4 separate regions of the Homo sapiens genome follow, and all the other regions are reported to be linked to region 1. Evidence: microRNA targets listed by miRTarBase, many of them from high-throughput screens and not tested one by one. Region 1 holds a microRNA gene; each other region holds the end of a gene's coding sequence.
Evidence for each region. Region 1 holds the annotated microRNA hsa-miR-4708-5p (AGAGAUGCCGCCUUGCUCCUU, at 3,628-3,648, opposite strand). A microRNA usually pairs through its seed, bases 2 to 8, with sites in the 3' UTR of a target mRNA and lowers its output. Matches are read on the target gene's strand: a 7mer-m8 pairs with bases 2 to 8, a 7mer-A1 pairs with bases 2 to 7 and ends in A, and an 8mer does both.

Region 2: the mRNA of CSRNP2 is a reported target of hsa-miR-4708-5p. Seed matches in the 3' UTR shown: 7mer-A1 at 2,649-2,655.
Region 3: the mRNA of LRIT3 is a reported target of hsa-miR-4708-5p. Seed matches in the 3' UTR shown: 7mer-A1 at 1,944-1,950 and 8mer at 1,989-1,996.
Region 4: miRTarBase lists CTXN1 as a target of hsa-miR-4708-5p. Seed matches in the 3' UTR shown: 8mer at 966-973.

What each region holds. Positions count from the first base shown.
Region 1 is chr14:65,331,528-65,336,598 of GRCh38, forward strand. It overlaps MIR4708 (microRNA 4708), which reads right to left and starts at 3,656; the gene lies at 3,590-3,656. RefSeq lists enhancers at 4,595-4,694, 4,755-4,904.
Region 2 is chr12:51,059,096-51,064,166 of GRCh38, reverse strand. CSRNP2 (cysteine and serine rich nuclear protein 2) reads left to right here. Exons shown (of 5, transcript NM_030809.3): 5 at 1-2,962. The coding sequence ends at 421. LETMD1 (LETM1 domain containing 1) reads right to left here. Exons shown (of 9, transcript NM_015416.5): 9 at 3,743-4,806. The coding sequence ends at 4,736. Among named protein-coding and RNA genes, the nearest start is that of LETMD1, 13 kb to the right of the region's middle.
Region 3 is chr4:109,869,978-109,875,048 of GRCh38, forward strand. LRIT3 (leucine rich repeat, Ig-like and transmembrane domains 3) reads left to right here. Exons shown (of 4, transcript NM_198506.5): 4 at 1-2,338. The coding sequence ends at 812. Among named protein-coding and RNA genes, the nearest start is that of LRIT3, 24 kb to the left of the region's middle.
Region 4 is chr19:7,920,946-7,926,016 of GRCh38, reverse strand. CTXN1 (cortexin 1) reads left to right here. Exons shown (of 2, transcript NM_206833.4): 1 at 1-50; 2 at 459-1,526. The coding sequence starts at 479. The coding sequence ends at 727. It overlaps SNAPC2 (small nuclear RNA activating complex polypeptide 2), which reads right to left. Exons shown (of 5, transcript NM_003083.4): 2 at 4,475-4,594; 3 at 4,244-4,312; 4 at 3,670-3,982; 5 at 2,767-3,572. The coding sequence ends at 3,253. LOC124904629 (a long non-coding RNA gene) reads right to left here and starts at 612. Exons shown (of 2, transcript XR_007067120.1): 1 at 181-612. RefSeq lists a silencer at 498-587 and an enhancer at 3,849-4,451.

The DNA.
Region 1 (5,071 bases):
ATAATAATAATAATAATAATAATTTTGATAAAGATCCACTCCAGGAGATCCTGATCCAGTTGGTCTCGGTTAGAGCCTGGTCATTAGTATTTTGAACAGTGTCAACCTTGTGAAAGGAAAATAAATCTTTGGACCCCCCCAAAGAGAAAAGTCAAGCTGGGAGCTGCTTAGGGCAAACATGCCTCCCATTCTATTCCTTAAAGGAGATAGCTACTAAGATAAAAAAGCTATATACCTGCCTCACAATTTGTCTACAAGGAAATTCCTTTTGGACAAAGGACAAACAGAACGCAAAGTCATCCCTCTGCTCACTGAGATAAATGCATATCTGATTGCTTCTTTTGGAAAGGGTAATTGGAAACTCAAAAGAATGTTTGTCTATCTATGACCTGGAGGCCCCCTCCCTGCTTCAAGTTGTCCCACCTTTCTGATTGAACCAATGTACATCTTACATATATTGATTGACGTCTTATGTCTTCCTAAAATGTATGAAACCAAGCTGTGCCCCGACCACCTTGGGCACATGTCATGGGACTTCCTGAGGCTGTGTCACGGGTGCATCCTTAACCTTGAAAAAATAAAGTTTCTAAATTGAGACCTGTCTCAGATATTTGGGGTTCACAACCTAAATTAATGAGATTCTGAAGAGATGATTAAATATAGAGTTTGTAACCATAATCGTTTCATTGCCCAATGTGCATAGCAAGTCAATACGCTGAAACACCTAGTTGCAAGAGAGAAAGAGGTTTAATTGTAGGGCAGCTGAATGTGATGGGAGGAAACCTCAAATCAGTCTCTCCAAGGAATTTGGGTCTAGAATTTTTAGTGATTTTGGAGTGGGCTGAAGTGTGGAGATCTTTGCTTGGCCCAAGGGTGCAGGATGAAGTCATAGAACAGGGAGATGAAGAAACTATATTCTCATGCTGATTCTGCTCTCCTCTGGGGGTCTTCAAACTTGTTGGCATCAGCTCAAATTTGGGATCTGAAAAACATCTTAAGCAATTCTTAAACAAAAGCCTTATGATTCTAATGTCAGAGATTCTATCTATCTTAATCAGAGGCCTGATGATTCTAACCTCAGACAGAAATACTATCTGTAGGAACAATGAGGATGCAAGTGGTCAGGATCTAGTACTCCACAACTTTCACTTCCTGTTGTTACAAGGAAGTGAGCCACAGTGCAGCCTAATTAATGCTTAATCATAACTATATTTCTGTCCAGAATTCTTGTTAACATGGTGAAGATGGCTTCAAGTTTATTCAAGCTCAAAGCTTGAGGGTGGCCACCCAAGAGCATAGATTCAAGTTGCCCTAAACCCACACTCTGATTAGAAATAGCTACAAGAGGATTTTTAAGGAATAAAGAAGAGGCAGCTCCTAAATTGTTTACCAAGAATTTATACTAAAATAACATAAGCTATTGATTGGGTATGTGTTATTCTTTGCATCACAAATTCCAACATGAAGATAATGGGTAAGGCAGTTAAGCAGGAACAAAATGCCTTTACACAGTTGCCCTGGACATGGGCGCAGAGATGTGACTGAAGTCCCATACTCCTGTCTCTCCAGGCTTGATAAATTTTGTATACTTCACATAGCTCAGACTGATCTGAGCTATTTTTCTTTCTCAGCGGAGTCTCCGTAGTCTCCGTAATTCAGAGGCACACCAAAATTTGAAAGCCAGCTCTACCACTGACTAATTGTGTGATTTTGGACAAATTAGTTCATCTCCTAGTATCTCAGTTTCCTCATTTGCTAAATGGGGAAAATAACAGCTCCAACATCATTGAGCTGTTGTGGAAATTAAATTAATTTAAAATGAAAGCACTTGGAAGAGTACTTGGCACATAATAAATGCTCAATAAGTGTTAAAGATTGCTACTTTTCCTGTCCCTTAGCAACTAAAAAATATCTTTTAAGGAGCGCCATTTCCTGGACATACTACAAAAAAGGGGAATTGCCTGCATTTACATAGATTTTTTGATAGTTGATGTCTCTGAGAGCAATATTCTTTTAGCCCCTTCTCTAAATCCAGGTTTATGCCTAATTTAGATCCCACGGTCTCCTGTGGTCCTAACCACCTTGTGAACATGTTATGAAGGTAAATTGAAGTTAATCTAGGGATGGAATGATGAGAGCAGGTAAAAGATAAATAGTTCAATGGTTCTCAACCTTGGCTATACCTTATAATTATCTGGAGAGCTTTAAACAATGCCCAAGTCAGCTGGGCATGGTTGCTCACGCCTATAATCCCAGCTCTTTGGGAGGCTGAGTCAGGAGGACTGCTTGAGGCCAGGAGTTTGAGACCAGCTAGGCAACATGGTAAGACCCCCTCTCTATTATATATTAAAAATAATTTTTAAAAAATGCCTAAGTCACACCCCAGACCAATTAATATCAGAATCTGTGGGAACAGGGCTCAGCTATCAGTCTATTTTAATCTCCAGATGATTCCAGTGTGTAGCCACTGGCCTCATCTTAGCTCGGCTGAGCTGGTGAGACCCAGTAATCTGTATTCTAACAAGCCTTCTGCAAATCTCAGGACCTTTGGTGTGAACCATCCCATCATCCTCCCAATGTCCAGGCCTCTGATTTCACTTCTCTGCCCAGTGGGTGTGACTTGAAAGCAAGAGAGGAGGTGCAACAACCCTTAGTTTCTGTAAGAAGGTACAAGGAGACCAGTTCTGTATATCAAATCCTGGTTTATTCTAGCCAGACCTGTCTTAGGGACAATGATGGTCTTTCAGCCTAAATGCTTGCTTCTCAGGAAGCAGGTGAGCCAATGAAGGGCCCCACTCTCTCCAAGTGGAGACTATAGCATTTGCCTAAAATACCCCTTCTCTCCAGTCCTAACTGTCCTGGAAGCTTCTCAGAGGCCAAATATGTAAACAAGTTCCAAACCAACACATCTGCTTTTCATTTCCTGCGGAATGCTAAAACGAGTCTTTTAAGGTTGCTTAAAATATGTTCTCTCCTCCCGCCCCACCCCCCAGGGCATTTGCTGTGCGTCCTCAGACCACCTCAGCTCCTCCTTCCCTACACCTGGGACTCTTCTGCGCAGACTTGGCTTCAAACAAGGCTCACGGTTCTTCCTGGCATTTGCTTTTTTGGCTTAGCGAGTGCACATTCAATATCTTTTTCTTCTTTTTCTTGAAAGCACTGTCTTCAGTCTCCTCACTTGTCCCTTTCTCCTCTGGCAAGCGTAATGCTATCAACATTTGAAAGTGGCCTGATTCCCTGGTGTCTGGTAAATGGCCTTGCTGGTGAACTTCTTTAGGAGAACTGCAAAGAAACTAGAGCAGGGGCTAAAGAGAGCTGCTCTCTTGGGGCTCAGATGCCCCTCCTGGGGCCCCACCTCACACTAGGTGGGTTTCCTTCCTAAATTTGAGCAACGACTCTGTGTGACCTTAGCCACCCTTAACTTTGCTCTGCTTCTGTTTAGCATCTGTTAAGGAGTGACCTTTGCCACCAATTAATGAGGGTGAGGCCCCATTCAGTTGCAAAGAACGTGGAATTGTAAACAAACTTGCAAGTGGAAAGACTAGTTCCAGGGGAAATGTAGGTAAGAAAGGTGCTCCCGTATTCTCCTTTTAGTATCAGAGAGATGCCGCCTTGCTCCTCCTGTTCAAGGAGCAAGGCGGCATCTCTCTCCTAAATATGCTGTTGTGTCTCATACCTCAGCTTCTCAGGGCCCTGCCAAGAGCGGGTAGGTAACATAACAACAGCTGTTACTGCCCCAATGTATCCTCCCTCCAAATGTCAACAACATACACTTTGGAGTGGCCTCTTTATGTTAAGGCCTTGAGCTTTAAGACTCAGCTCTGGCCTTTAAGAATCGTATGTTCCCGTTGAAGAGACAGGATGTGTGTAAAGATAGCAGCTAGAGACCATGCCCAACAGATAACAAACATTAAGGGAATACATAAGTATTGAACAAATATATATGGAGCACTAATTATGTTTTGTTGTAAGCTCTGAGGCTAAAGTGTTATAGGACTTTCTCCTTAGTTCAACTAAAAGCCGGATTCTTGTCACACAGCCATGAGAGATTAGGCTTGCAGACACTTTGAAGGGTGAGAAGAATGGAACTTATTGGGCAAAAAGGAAAATAAATGGAAACAGGGACTCTCAGCAAAGTGAGAGTCCTGCTTGCTGGTTTTTCCTGCCTCACTGATTGAATCCCATGTACTACCCTGGATCAGGAGAGGCCAGGCTCCTTCCTGCTGCAAAGGGTGTGAACTTCTGCAGCTCCACCCTGTTCTCCCAGTGCGCAGGCCAGTCGGAGTTTCTCAGGGGACCCCTTTACACTTGGCTGTCTCAAAAAACAGGGAGCAAAACAGATAAAACCCCTGGCTTTATGGATCTTATGTTCCTTATATATATATATGTATAAGGAACACACGTATATATGTGTATATATGTATATATATATTTTTAGGTTCTGGAATAAATGTGCACAACATGCAGCTTTGTTACATAGGTATATACATGCCATGGTGGTTTGCTGCACCCATCAACCCGTCATCTACATTAGGTATTTCTCCTAATGCTATCCCTCCCCTATTCCCCCACCCCCTAGATCTTATGTTCTAATGAGACAAGACATACTTTGAGAGGCCAAGATGAGTGTCAGCAAATAAATATGTATAATACACCAGCTTCTGGGAAGTACTTTGAAGGAAAATGAAGCAGATTAAGGAGGGTAGAGTGACATGGTTAAGAGAATGTGGTTTTTTAGATGGGAGATCAGAGAAGACCTCTCTGGTAAGGAGACATTTGAGTCAAAATCTGAAGAAGGAGGGAGTGAGTCATCTGAGTCTGTGAAGAATTTTCTAAGCAAGGCGAGCAGCAAGCACGAAGGCTCTCAGGAAGGAGTGTGCTTGGTGAGTTCTAAGAACAAGCAGGCCAGTGTAGCTGGAAAGTAGTGAGCAGGAGACTGTGGGCAGGAGAGGACATGAGAGAGGTGACAGAGTGGATCACTGAGGACCCTGCAAGTGGTGGTAAGGACTTTAGATTTTGTTTTGAAGCCATTGGAGGGCTTTGAGTAGAGCAGTGACATGATTGGACTCAC
Region 2 (5,071 bases), not on the chromosome of region 1:
AACGGTGAACAGCCCATCCTACTTGAACAGTGGGCCCCTGGTCTATTATCAAGTGGAGCAGAGGCCAGTCTTGGGAGTGAAAGGAGAGCCTGGTACGGAAGAAGGCTCAGCCTCTTTCCCAAAGGAGAAGGATCTGAATGTCTTCTCTCTCCCTGTTACCTCACTCGTGGCTTGTAGCTCCACAGACCCAGCTGCCCTCTGTAAATCAGAGGTGGGGAAAACACCCACCCTAGAAGCTCTATTGCCCGAAGATTGTAACCCTGAGGAGCCTGAAAATGAAGACTTCCACCCTTCCTGGTCCCCCTCAAGCCTCCCCTTCCGCACGGACAATGAAGAGGGCTGTGGGATGGTGAAGACCTCCCAGCAGAATGAGGATCGGCCCCCTGAAGATTCTTCCTTAGAACTCCCTCTGGCAGTGTGACAGGCGCTAGAGGTCCTGCCTCTTACCCATTCTCTATTTATTCCCTTATTTTATCTAACACCATTTCAAAACAAAACTGTAGAAGCAGCTGCTGCTCCCATGTTATTTTATTGGGGTCTTTGGGGAATGGGTGGGAAAGGATTGTTTGAGTATTTTTTAAAAGGGAAACAGTACCAAGGAGACCAGCCCTACCTTGATCTGGGGATAGTCTTGGGGCAAAGAAAGCTGCGTAGTGCTGAACATTAAGCTTTCTGGGCCACTGGAACAAAGAACTAGGATCTCACAGGAAAAGCTGGGTAACTCAAGCAGCTATTCTTTCTGTAGGGACCAGAACACGAGAATTTGAAGAGCATGGCAAAGCCCTTTCTCTCCCAAGCCCCAGGCAGAGTACAAGCTCATTTTTCTCGGTGGTTATTCTGATATCCCATTTTGGTGTGTCATAATACTTCAAACTGGAAAGTCACCTGGTCGAGTCTAGGGAGGAGGGAGTGGAAGGGTCTCTGCTTCTGTACAAAATCTCCAGGATTTACAAAAATGTAACCTGCCTTCCTTCAATCCCATATTTGGTAAATAAGTTAATATTTGACATGTTTGGTGTTCTCTGACCTGTTCCCCACACTGGGGATTCCTGGTCTGTAACTTGAATTGTTTCTTCCACATGTTCTTAAGTACTAGAGTTAAACTTGTCTATGTGTCTTTTTTCTCTCCATCCTTTTTCCTTCGGAGAAAGAGCTGGATTGGCTGGGGATATGGTATAACGAGCCTGAGCCTTCTGTACGTGTCTGACACTAGCACTGTCAGGCAGCTTTCGGCTGGGGCTCACCCATCCCATAGGAGGCCTATGTGGAGCATTAACTGTGGCCAAAGGAGGCAGCGGGAACAGGCTGCTTGCTATCTGGAAAGATGACATATTTGTGCCATGCTTGTTTTTTCACCCAGGTTTTTCCCTCTTTGTGAGATCTGAGCTTTAGTGGAATGTAGAATGTGGCAATCTTAAGGTCACCAATCAGTTTTTGTTCTTTTTTCCTGGATCTACCCTCATGGTCGTTTTCAACATAGCGGGTTAGAGTTCTTATACTGTTCCAGTTCAATTCCAAGAATTGCAAATGTTTATTGGACCCCTCCATCTTGATGATATATAAAAATTGGAAGCCAAACCAGTTCTTAAATGCTACATGCAACTCCCAGATTCCAAAGGATTCAAGTTCTAATTATAACCTTTGAAGCGTATAGAATGGAACTCATTCAGTTTGATTCAGTTCTTACCTCTGTCAGGAGGAATACAGTTCCTGTTCATCCTGTGTTCTAAGATCTCCATTGAACAGCACTGATTTCCTTTCATTAGCAAAGTGATCTTTGTCTCTGTTCTAAAATGGAGGCAGTAGGGAGCAAAACTATTCTTCTCAAGCATCCTTTACACCATACTTTACTTCTGGTATGGTTTATTAACCACACACACACACAAAAGTGAAAAACTGTGTTGGGGGGGAGACACTACTCCTACTTATCTTGCTCATAAAGCCTTTTCTGGTGGGATATTAAGGCCCTGGTGTCTTACAGAAACCATCACGTATGTCGCAGCAGCATTTCACCCCTGAAGTCTCTAAACTCTGAGCCTGAAAAGATTTGTATTTAATACACATAACATTTTTTAGTTCATTCTGCCTTTCCTATTTGTTCCAGTTTTTGCTTGGTTTTAGTTTGGAGGGGAACTTAAGTACACAGATCCTTATCTCTCCCCATCCCCTAGCCTCACAAAACACAGTTGAGAGTCTTTTAAGTACCTGAGCTCTCGAAGCTACCCAGAACTGAACTAGACTCCCCTACCTTAGACTGGTACCCTCAAACACAGGACTGAAGCTTAATTGGGAATTTGGCTTTATGGAGAAAAGAATCTTTTTCAAAGTTTGTGTCGGAAGGGGAGGGTGAGGTTTGCCCACTGTCTCTGCAGGAAGGCTCCGGCTTAATCTAGGAAGTAGATTCCAGCTGCACGATGAGGAACACATTAGCTTTTGGGATCAAACCAGGAATATGAATCTGTAATTATTAAGCTCATTGCCAACCCACAAGATATGTTTCTGAAAACCTGTAGTTTCTTAATTTAAGTCCATCCCCTTCATTAACGCTACAGTTGTGACTCACACTGATCCCAAACTTTTAAGTGCTAAATATTAACATTTAGCATTAACTGTCTTGTCAAGCGAAAGGCCTTCTCTACAACCTAGTCCATCTCACTTCTGGTGCTACCTGAGTTGGACAGAATTCTAGCTCATGGTTGCTAGGAAAGCTAGGCCTCTGATCATAGAAGCAGATAGCTTCAGTCCCAGTCTAGGCCTAGATAAATGACTCTTATTACCACAACCCTTATTATTTTCCAATTTCCTTTCTCACATACTGTACACAGGTAGTATTTTCAATGTGAATCCAAAGCTTGTCTGGTTCTCTGAAAATAATTTTTTCCCCTTTAGGTTCTTTACATTGTGATAATGCTGTATTTAAAGAGAATATTTAAATGTAATATTAAAGAAATATTCAAAAGAATGATGTGTTACTCTTTGTCTCGGCAGGCCACAGTTCAGTTACTTGTTAGAAAAAGGATGCTTCTCTAGCTTCGTTATAAAACTAATTAGGTCAGTTAGGAATTAATGTTAACAATAGAAACATTTTGTGATGGAAAAATAGAATATTCTCTTTGGAGTACCAAGAGCTGGACTTGGTTCATATGCCCTTGTGTACCTGTTCAGCTGAAGCAGGCCTTGCTCCTGCTCTGTTGGAGCTTAGCCCTGTCCCTACTCTGGGCTCCCATTTTCTCATTCCATTAACTTTTTTTTTTTTTTTTTTTTTGAGACAGAATCTCATTCTGTCGCCCAGACTGGAGTGCAGTGTCGTAATCTCGGCTCACTGCAAGCTCCGCCTCCCGGGTTCACGCCATTCTCCTGCCTCAGCCTCCTGAGTAGCTGGGACTACAGGCGCCCACCACCACGCCTGGCTAATTTTTTGCTATTTTAGTTGAGACGGGGTTTCACCGTGTTAGCCAGGATGGTCTTGATCTCCTGACCTTGTGATCCGCTCGCCTCAGCCTCCCAAAGTGCTGGGATTACAGGCGTGAGCCGCCGCGCCCGGCCTCATTCCATTAACTTTATGAAATTCTCTTTTCCTTGTTATCACCTTAAAGTGTCCAGCAAGGAGATCAACTTCAAATCAGTTTCTGCAAAACTTCCATCCCATCAGAAGGTTCTATGCCAACCAATTAAATCCCCATTTGTTAGATTATGTCAGTCTTGTAAAAGGAGACAGCAAAATGATTAGAGTATGCATAAGTCATTTCCATCAACAGGTTTCAAGCAGTCTTTACTTGGGTTTAAAAACAGTGCTTCATGCATTTACAATAAGTTATTACAGAACTCTAAGTCACTGATGCACACACAAAAGCTAAACCCAACTTACTAACTATGCAGACCTCTCCTGATCTCCCCAGGCTGGGCAGTAATTAGTACCTTACAGGTGTGATCCATGGCCCAGAGAAGGCAGCCACTGTCAGTTACAGTTGGACTGCTGCATCACAGTGGAGGCAGCAGAGTTGAAGATCCACAGAGGGCTGTAATACAGCCCAGAAAAGACAATGGAGAGTGAAGGCTAGAAACATTGAGGAAGGGGTCAAGAAGCACTTGTACTTCCTGTTATCTTTTCCAATAGAATATTCCTGCAAGTTACCCATCAGAAAAAGGTGTTCAGAGGGTTTGAAAAAGAAGTGGTTAGCCCATGCCAGTGAAGGTGACAAAAAACAAAACAACTTGATTTTTGGTCATATCAGAAAGGATGGAGGGAAACACCCAAGTACATGCACGGACACATGTGCTCCAGCCAAAGGAGTGCTGTTTTCACCAGCCACAAATTTTCTAACAGCAACAACAAAAACCCACAGATGTAAGTAACATGGAAGTGGATCAGTCCTAAGCCAAATAAGGATTCCCACCTGGGGCAAAAGCTGACTTCCTAGGACATGAACTGAACACATCACAGTAAAAGCCCAGTAGAGGCTGCTGCCAGTTCCAGCTATTAGTAATTATGAGGGGGACAGGATGACACCTCACACGGACCACCCCTAGCAAGAGGGTTTGTTTCAGTTCTAGCTGTGAGAGGAATGTCTGCAGTTCCCACATGTGTGCCATGCTGTGAAGCCCATGGCCCCTGCTCCTCTCTCTGCCTCCCACACACTTAACAGTACACACAGACTTTGCTGGCAAGTGCTGTTTGTTCCTGCACTGCTATACTATACGACTGCAGGACAATGCCATCCGCTCCATGGTTCATTCAGCGCCTTGTCCCAAGGTAGTTGGTGGAGAGCAGGACCACGTTGTGCAGCAAGAGAGACAGCTCAGCTTCTGAAAACACAGTGTTAGTGGTTTGGCTTGGGAACACTGCCTTATAACTGCCTTGTTATATATGGCTTAAGCCTGGAGGCAGGAAGCCAAGTGCAGGGAGGGGTGGAATGAAGAAGCTGTTTTTCTCAAAGTTCCCCTTCTTTGTTTCAGCCCCTGTATGCATGCCTTCCTTTCCTTCTACTATATATTCGTATCAACTCATCCTCTATTTCTCATGTGATTGCAGTAGAAAATTCAGAGATGGTAATGGTACTAAACACCAGTC
Region 3 (5,071 bases), not on the chromosome of region 1:
TCTCTTTATCTCCTTTCTCCTCCTCCACTGTTTCTTCAACCACAACTCTGAGCACAAGCATCTCAGCAAGTACCACCATGGCCAACAAGCGATCATTCCAGCTCCACCAAGGTGGGAAAAGAAATTTAAAGGTGGCAAAGAATGGAAGTAAGCTTCCTCCAGCCAGCACAAGTAAGAAAGAAGAGCTGGCATTGTTGGATCAAACAATGCTTACGGAGACAAATGCCGCAATAGAAAACCTCAGGGTGGTCAGTGAGACTAAAGAGAGTGTGACATTGACGTGGAATATGATCAACACCACACATAACTCTGCAGTGACTGTGTTGTATTCCAAGTATGGTGGGAAGGACCTGCTGCTGTTGAATGCAGACTCCAGCAAGAACCAAGTAACCATAGATGGCTTGGAACCCGGTGGGCAATACATGGCCTGTGTCTGTCCAAAAGGAGTGCCTCCCCAGAAAGACCAATGCATCACCTTTTCTACTGAAAGAGTTGAAGGAGATGATTCTCAATGGTCTCTCCTTCTCGTGGTGACCAGTACTGCCTGTGTTGTTATCTTACCATTGATTTGTTTCTTGTTGTACAAAGTTTGCAAACTGCAATGTAAATCAGAACCTTTTTGGGAAGATGATTTGGCAAAGGAGACTTATATCCAATTTGAGACCCTGTTTCCCAGGTCTCAAAGTGTAGGTGAGCTCTGGACACGAAGCCACAGGGATGACTCAGAGAAATTGCTGCTTTGTTCTAGGTCAAGTGTGGAATCTCAGGTGACTTTTAAAAGTGAAGGTTCCAGACCAGAGTATTATTGCTAAGGTTCTGCAGCTCAGGTGCATGTGAGCTACAAAACTAGCATCTAAGGGTATAATTGACCCTAGGTTTGGATGACTTTTGGACAGACTTTCACATTGTACATGAAAATCACAAATGGAATGCTTTTAAGTATGTTTAAAAAATACCATGAGACCTCTGAACTGAAAAGACAAATAATGTTGATTTTTTTTCTTGTGTGGAAAAGGTCTACAGAAATAATTTTTAGAGTGGTGCTTAATAAATTATTAATACTTTTTAGGGTAATGTTTTAGTTCTTAAAAATAAGTTCATGTGAAAGTAGCAAGTGAACTCTGTATTTAAAAATATAGTTTTTTGAGTCATGAGGAAACATTAGCAAAACCAGCTAAGCCTTGATGTTTATTCATGTTCGAAGTGCATTATAGCATTTGCTGTGGATGTTTTCTGACATTGCCTAATGGAGAGCGTGGGATCATAAAGGATTTTGTGTTCACTAAGGTTAAATCTAACTCACGGGAGAGAGAGGGCTCTGTCTCTTGGTACCATTATGCATTGTGATACTATAGAGTTGTGTTCATATTTCTTGTAAGAAAAATTTTTGCTTTTCTTTAGAAATATAGGTATTAGCAAAAGTAAGTATACAAAGAGGATTATGACAAATAGACCATTTCTTTAAAAATGGTAACTGTTGCATTTAAACACATCGACTGACAGATTATATGGATATTTAAAAATAACTTTAAATCAATCTTTTAATATTTTGCTGTTTGCTCTTATGTTCTCCCTTCTTTCTTCCTTCCTTGTCTTCCCTCCCTTTCCTTCCTTCATTCTTTCTTTCTTCTGCTCTGTCAGAAGATATACAAGTAGCCAAAGCATCACGAGCCAAGCTGTTTGTCTTTTGCCATATTGTCTTTTGATTCTCTTGATAAAGAGAAAGCTTTTGAAATTACTTACTGCCCTTTGAAAGTCTGTTTTACAACCCCAAAGGATATTTTAGGACTTTAAAAGGGAAGCTTCAGTGGATTCATTTGGTTAGATTCTTTTCCTAGGTTAAAAACATCGGGGAACTTAAATACATAGGAAAGGAGTTCACAAATAAAATTTAGTTTTTTTAGAAAGAGAATATTTTAATAACTGTAGTATACTACAAGAAACATCTCATGGCTTTAAGATTAACGATAGCGATAAGGCCCACTCAAGCATCTCACAGTGGTGATATTACATGTCACTTAGCAGGATGCAACCTGGCCTAGGGATTTCCAGAAGACAAGGCCACCTCAGCACAGATGCAACTTTCATAAATTTTAGAACAAAGCCTAACCTTACTAGATTAAACTTGCTCTATGAAAGAAACACTTGGTAATTGACCCAGACTGAATACATGTATAAGAAATGGGAAAGATCTCCCAAACTCTGAGAACGGTCCTCAAATAGAAGCTCTCCTAGTCAGTTGGTCATCTGACCTCTGACTATATCCGGCCTATGACACCAGCCAGCTCCTGCTTTCTGTCTTGTAAGAGCACTGCTGGAATAAACTACTTGAGCATTAGATGGTGTCTAAGACTCATCTTTGATGACAGGGATAAATCACCCTTGTGAAGCTGGCTAGCTGGGACCACCCAAAACCTCAGAACACAACTAGCAGTGAGGATGAAATTTGAGTAAGCCAATGAGTGATGACACCCATTTCTACAGGAGGATCAAGGGAGAGTGGCCAGGGCCTGGCTCTGATCGAGAGATTGGGTGAGGTCTGAGGAACACTCTACAGTGGGTCTGGCAGTTTTTGTTCTGTTTTCACATGTGTTGCTGCCTTCTATCTTTACTTTGTGCCTCTGTTTTGGAGGTCACCACCAGGTAAAATTTGCCAAAATTACTTTTAAGACCACTCTGGTCCCACAGGAAGGTGGGCTTCTAGGAGGAGGGTGGTAGGAATGCTGTAGGCTGGGGGACACCCTGGGCTTGAAGAGCCAACCACCAGCTGGTATGTTTCTAGCCTCAGCTGTGGGAGAGGAGCTCCTCGTCCCCAAAGGTCCTGGCATCATGACCCCATAGACCAAGAAGGCTCAAGTACATCTTCTCCACAGAAAGCTTATCTGTTGTCTGCCAACTGGGGAAAGAGACTTCTCCAACATACCCCGGTCTAATGCCGTTAGCAAAGTCACCAAATCACCAACGGGCATGTTGCTGCCATCCCTGTTCCTCTGCATGCTCCCAGTGAGACAGTGCGGCTTCTCCAGGGCTTTACCACCCCCTACAATGCCTGCTGGGTGCTGCCAGCAGCAGCCCATGAGCAGCACATCCAAATCATAGGGGCTCACCTCAGAGTTGCCACTCTGCACCTGGCTGACCTGGAGGCCTGTGAGCTGTGATCATCCTGAGTGCACCAGATTACCCCCAGCAGCACCACAGGCATTGCCAGTCACCACCTGGACACAGTTAAGAAAGCAGCTGCCACCTCCGCAAACAGCGAGGGTGAGGAAGAACTAATCTCGGATCCCAAAGCAAGCACTCTGTCTAGCAGGACTCGGTTAGTAACTGTCAGAGCTGGTTGTTACAAAGTGAGGTTCTTCCTTGCCTTGGCTCCCTTTGGCACACTCACTTCCTTTTCCACTTCTCTGCCATGCTGTGACATGGCAGAGGCCTCACTGGAAGCTGACCAGATATAGTGGGCAGATCTTTGACTCCTAGGCCTCCAGAATTGTAAGCCAAAGTAAACCTCTCTTCTTTATAAATTACTCAGTGTCCTGTTCTGGTGACTCTCCCTTATGCCTGTCTATTCTGTTATGACCACAGAAAACAGACTAAGAAAATTCTTATGGATAGAAGATGCATTCTTACCTTAAATCTTTAGAAACCTATGAGGGTTTCTTACGCTTCATAGAAGCATATGAGGGTTTTTTGTTTTTCTGTTTTTTACCTTATTAAGTCAGGAACTTGCACCTTTTCACGTAAAGGAAGCACTTTACAGCTTCTCTTTGGCATATCCAAGTTGCCTGCGTCACTATTCTTGTGCTTTGGGACCACTGTCAAGTAAAATAAGGGTTACTGGAATGCAAGCACCGTGATACCACGACAGTCCATCTGATAACCACGGCGGCTTCTAAGTGACTGATGGGCAGGGAGTGCATGGTGTGGATCCTCCAGACAAAGTGATGACTTATGTCCTGGGTGGGACGGAGCAGGATGGCAAAATATTTCATCAGACAACTCACAGCCACACCTCCTGGAAACACTCAAGAGCCCTACTTGCATTTGGCAGCCATCTGAAACGGACAAAACCTGAAACTCTAGCTTGACTGGACCACCTCCAAGATCAACTTAAAATTTATGAATTGTTTATTTGTAGATTTTCCATTAAAAATTTTCGGACTGTGGTTGAAGTTGGGTATCTGAAAACGTGGAAAACAAAACCTCAAATAAGGGGGTACTACTGTAGGCCCTTTGACACAAGCAGAAATTCGAAGCCTGCTCAAACACCTGATGCAGAGGCCCAACAGGAAAAGTGCCACCTGGCTGTGGTGTGCGTACTGAACAGGAAGGGTCTACAATTCACAGGCCAAGAATACAACAGCTGGCAGCTATCTCCAAAGATGGGAAGATTGATTTCATTACTTAAAGATCCTGTCAAGCTTCTCCAGGAAGCACAGTCAGGTGGGACTCTGGGCCCAGAGCAGGCAGACGTGACAGAAGCTATTCCTGTGCTCTGTCACAATGGCTGTTTATGGCCTGGCAAGCAGCACAATCCAGCATGAGCCTCCTTACAACCAGGGCTGAAAGTGGATGAGGTACCTACCACAAAGGAAGGAAGAGAGCTACTGAGACGTTTAGGTGTGCTCCAGTGGGTTTACACACCTTCCATCTTCACAGGACAGAGGCAACACTCATCTAGCCCTTAACCCCAGCTTGACTCTATCTGGTCTATGAGGAGCTGCCTCGTGCACAAAAGTTTCTCTACCTTCACGTCACAGACACACTTTGGGCCCAGGCACTGCCTGTGCACCTTGTATCAGCATTATGAGGACCCCTGCCCCATCATATCTGCAGTGACTACTTCATGCCCTCTTGGACCAAACATAGACTTCTCTACCTGCTGAAAGACACCTTCACCGTTAACACCCAGGATAGCCATGGAGACTGGCCCACCAACCTTGACTAATCGCTAGCTGGCATTTGCCTAGTAGGCCACCTCCACCGCAGTTTCTATGGCCTGCACCTCCTGGAAAACTCAGTTGTGCTGGGCAGCCATCTGGGATGGACAAAACCTGAAACTCTGACTTCACTG
Region 4 (5,071 bases), not on the chromosome of region 1:
GAGAGAGCGCGGCCGCCGGGCGGTCGGTCCCCGTCCGGGTCGAAGCCAGGGTGAGGGGCGCGCCGGGGCGGGGGCGGTGGGGGAGGGGGTCCCAGGCCGCCGAGAACAAAGGGAGCGGGGGCAGGGGCCGCGGGGACCGTCCCCACGCCGCGCGCCCGGGCCGCGGCCGCGCTTTCGCACCTGTTGTGTGCGGCCCAGGCCGGGCGCGGCTCCGTTTCCCGGCTCTCAGCGCCCCCACCTGCGCGCACGGCCAGAGTTGGGTCCCCGCGTGGTGGTGGCGGCGATCCGGCGGGCCGGGCATGGGCGTAGCCCGGGGACCGAGGCGCGGGCGGGGGATGGGGTCGGGCACGTTAAGGGAGGCGGCGGCGGCGGCGGCAGGAGGGGGCGAAGCGGAGGAGGCGCGGGAGGGAGGGCGCAGCCTCATCCCCGGCGCCCGGGGCGGGTCCCCTCCTCCGCAGGGCGCGCGGCGATGTGAGCCATGAGCGCGACGTGGACGCTGTCGCCGGAGCCCCTGCCGCCGTCGACGGGGCCCCCGGTGGGCGCGGGCCTGGACGCGGAGCAGCGCACGGTGTTCGCCTTCGTGCTCTGCCTGCTCGTGGTGCTGGTGCTGTTGATGGTGCGCTGCGTGCGCATCCTGCTCGACCCCTACAGCCGCATGCCCGCCTCGTCCTGGACCGACCACAAGGAGGCGCTCGAGCGCGGGCAGTTCGACTACGCGTTGGTGTGAGGGGCGCGGCGCCCCCTAGCCGGCCCTGCGCCGGGGTCTCAGAGGGCCGGCCCGGCGGGGGGCGCCGCGGGGCCAGGACTGCGCTCAGGATCCCGCCCCGGAGCCCCCAGCCCGGGGGAGAGGGGGAGGGAGTTGGGAGAAGCCCAGCCCCTCCCCCTCGAGACCCCTCCCATGTCCCTTCCTGGCCTGGCCGGAGCCCCACCTCGTGCCTTTATCCGCCCTGTCCCTTCCTCTCTGCGCATCTCACCCGCCCGGCTGGCCCCCACCCCCGACTCTGAATCCCGGGCGGGAGGAGGACCCCCGCACCGCCCCCTCCCCAGCGTGTAAGTGGCTCTGCTATTGTGCGTCCCTGGAAGTGGGGACCCCCTTGTCCCTCCTCCCTCCCCTGTTGTCTGGCCGTCGTCAACCCCACCTTGACTGAGTGTTGAGCCCGTCCTTGGGCTCTGGTCCCTGCGGGGCAGGCTCTCCCGGGCCCACGGGGCGGACGCTGCATACCAATTTGCCCTGCACCGCCTGTCCCGGAGACGGAGCCCGAAGGCCTGCCATGGCGGCTGTGTCGAGGATGCGTGGCGCCTGCCGTGGCGGGACAGCGTGGGCAGGCTCATTTCTGCCCCCAACCCGGGCCCCAGGACAGGTCAGCGCGCCCTGCCCCGGTGCCCACCGCTGCCCCCCATCCGCCCTCCTGCCACTTGCCCCTGACCCCCCTGCCGTGCCTCCCGCAGCCCTCCCATGCCGTTCCACTCCTCCCTGCCTCTGAGCCGAACATGATAATAAAAGCTATTATTGAGCGCTTACTGCATGCCAAGTAGCGTGCTGAGTTGGCACCTCCTGTTTATAGCCTGTCTCCTCTTCGGGATCGTGAGAATGAGCCAGGCCCTGTTAGCATCCCTATTCTACAGGCCAGGAGACCGAGGGCCAGGCAGCTCCAGTGACTGACTTGCCCACAGTCACATGGCTAGAGTCTGGTAGGGCTGGAAGTGGAACCCAGGTCTGGCTTTTGCATGTTTTTAAAGCTTCCCAGGGCTGCAAAGACACCAAGATCACAAGCACCTTTCACCGGCTTTGGGGGGGGGGGCTGATGTGTAACCCCCAGCTGCCTCCCCTCCACACACAATTCTGTTGATCTGGGGAGGCGCCGGGGGTGGTGAGAGAGACTCAGCCCTGTGGGGAACTGGGAGGCGCACCCTCTGCCAGCCCTGGAGGGAGGCTCCGACGACCGACCGTACCTGCAGCCTAAGCCTCCTCCCCCTGCCCACCACCATTGGCAGCGTTTGTGGGTCTGGTGCGGTGGGGCGGTGACCACGGACGGAGTGGGCTGGCTGTGCTCCAAGGCCCTCCCAAGAGATGTGCACCCCAGGGGAGCCGTGTGCAGTGTGTGGGGGGAGGAATGAGCGTTTCTATAAAAGGCAGGCTGGGTGAATGCACAGGCTCCGAGAACGGAGAATTTACCGACTTGGATTACTAGCTGGGCGTGGGACGCGGTGCCGTGGGAGGACATCTGCTTCCCTCTCTAGGACCCGACCCTCGGTCCACACCCACAGGGCAGGTGAAGCTGATGGAGGGGGCCTCAAGCGGGGTCCCAGCACCCCCAGGGGTTTGGGGTCAGCCCTGACTCCAGTACCCCTCCCTCCCCGCCTTCTAGGGATCCTTGAGGTCCCAAAGCCACCCCAGGGGACACTCCACTCCCACTAGCCTCCTGCCACTCGGGGCAGCCCACCCCTATCTATCTTCCTCTAACCGCCCAGCCTGGGGCTCAACTCCTTCCACCGGGTCACCCCCACTCTCTGCTGCCTTCTCCCCTCCACCTGTGCGATGTGATTTTGCCCTACTCTGAAACCCATCCCTGACGCCTGTCCCCAAGGTGCCCTGCCGGCTCTCCCCATCCACACTTGTCAGCTTCACAGTCACCAAGGGGCTCCTCACCCCAGGCCTCATCACACCAGTCAGGTGGCAGCTCTCCTCCCTGGCACACACCCCCAGCCCTGTGACCCCCAAGCTCTGACACTTCAGGGCCCCCACTTCCATCTTTAAGTCACAGGTGAAAGAGAAAGAGAATGATAACTTTATTCATGGTCACAGAATACCCCCGGGAAGGGGAAGGACCTGGCAGCAGGGAGTAACCACGACTGGTCAGTTGAAGAAGGTGAGGATGCTGGCCCCGAGGTGTACAGGAAGGGGGAAAATGTGCGAGGGCCTTTACGGTGGGCAGTGCCAGCTATGGCCCCCCAGCAGACAACAAGGCACAGTGGGGCTTGGGGACTGGGGGAGGCCAGCCCTGTCCGCCTGTCCTTGACATCAGGAGGCTTGTGAGTGGAGTCCTGCAACCCCCACCCAACCCCTGTACAACGGGGGTTCCATTTCTGAGACCCCCAAAGTATGGGGCATCTTAGAGGCCCGCCCCACAGCTGAGCATCATCTCAAGGACCTTCCCCCATGACGGGATCCTCAGAAAGAGCCAGGGCCAGCCGAGCAGAACCGAGGGGCAGGGCGGGGGGCCTGGTGTGGCCTCCTGCCCGCCATGCCCCTCACCTGGCAGGGGTGGCTGCCCGACCCAGAAGCTCCAGGGGCACCAGGAACGGGTTCAGGGGACAGATCCCAGCTGCTTGCCAAGGCGATTTCAGTTCGCTGTGCTCGGCCTTCTCGGTGGCTGGGGGGGTCTCCTCTGGTGCCTTGGAGCCAGCCCCATCCCCTTCTGCTGCAGGCCCCAGGCTCCCTCCAGCGGGAATGGGCTGGGGGGCTGTCAGGCGTAGGTACGTCTCCGTCATATGCTCAACCAGGGCTGTGCAGGGCAGGAGTGGCAGCTCCTCTGGAAGTGACATGAGCAGGTCGAGGACCACAGCGGACTCTAGTGATGGATGGAGGAGAGGGGTAAGGGGACACCCCTGCCTGCTGCCAGGGACCCTTGATCCCTCTGCTCCTGCCCCCTCCCTCACCCTTCTCACCAGCTGCTGAGAGCTCGGGGCTGCGGCCACTTCGGGAGACAGAGGACAAGTACTTGTAGATCTTCTCAAAGTCCACAGCAAAGTCTTCTTCAGTGGAGGGACCAGCCGACGACTCAGAAGGTTTCTCAGGGGCAGGGTCAGGAGTCCTGGGTGCGGAGCTAGGTGCAGCAGGGGCAGAGCTAGGTATTTCAGGGGCGGGGTCTTCCTGTCCTCCAGGGGCGCTCAGGAGCAAAGGCTTTCCACGGGCCTGCGTGGGCTTGGGGGGCTTGGAGTGCAGGAGGGTGACCGGTTCCGTGGCCGCGATGGTGAGCACCTGGCAGGCAGAACAATCAGGGAGGAAGAGGAGCTGGGAAGTCTTCTCACCGTCTACACATTCCCCCATCCTCCCTGCCACCCTAAGATGCTCCTCAGACAAGAGATGGCCTCAGAGCCAGGGACACTGAGGCTCGAGGTGTCCAGTGACTGACGGAGTCCACAGAGCTGGCAAAAGGGCCCAGGACCCAGGTTCACATGATTTGGCCCATGTGACCCTGTCCTCTGGGACACCCTGACCTGCCTGGGGGAATGGCGGTACCTGCGAGAAAGCCACTGCCAGGGCTTCTTCCAGTGGCCCTGTTATCTTCTCAGCCAGATCCGTCCAGACCTGAGTGAAGCCAGAGGTACAGGGTCAGCCCAGGGATCAGCCTGCAATGGCCCCCCAAGCCCTGCTCCTCCTGGGGATCCCCTAATCAGGTTATCCCCCGCAACTCCCACCTACCCACCAGGGACCTGCCCTGGACAGCCTCACCCTGTTCATCTGCCTCACCTCTATGGGGGCTGGGGGCTGTGCCTCCCGGCGCCTTGGTCCCTGAAGGCCACCCGGATGCACTTTCTGAATGGCCTCCCGGGCTACGCGGCCCTTGAGCTGCTGGAGGAAGACCCGGATCTAGAAAGGAAAGAGGCGGCGGAATGAGGCTTCTATGAGCTCAGGGCTGCAGCAGAGAAGCCAAAGCCCAATCCCTTGTATGCTCTGGGCCCCGCTACTGCGCCTTAGTCTCCTGCTGGCCCGGTGTTAGGAGTCCCAGTGACTGCCAAGGCCCCTACCCCACCCAGAGCGTGACCAGCTACCTAAGGAAGTTGTAAGGCCCAGGCCAGTTCCGGCTCCTTCACGCAGCCAGGGCCCAACCCTATGCTGACTACTACCCCGTTCAACTCCCTTCTTCGTCCCCTCTTCTCTATTCCCTCTCACTTCAAGCTCGTATCCTGTCCAACAGCATGCGTTGCTTTTCGCCCGGACTCGGCAGCATCTTACTCCCAGTTCATTCCGCCCGTTTAGCCCTCGCCTCACCCACGCATTACCCCGAGGCTCGCCCCGCCTTTAAAGCTTGCCCTCATCCCGCCCACGCCCCTCCCACGCCTTACT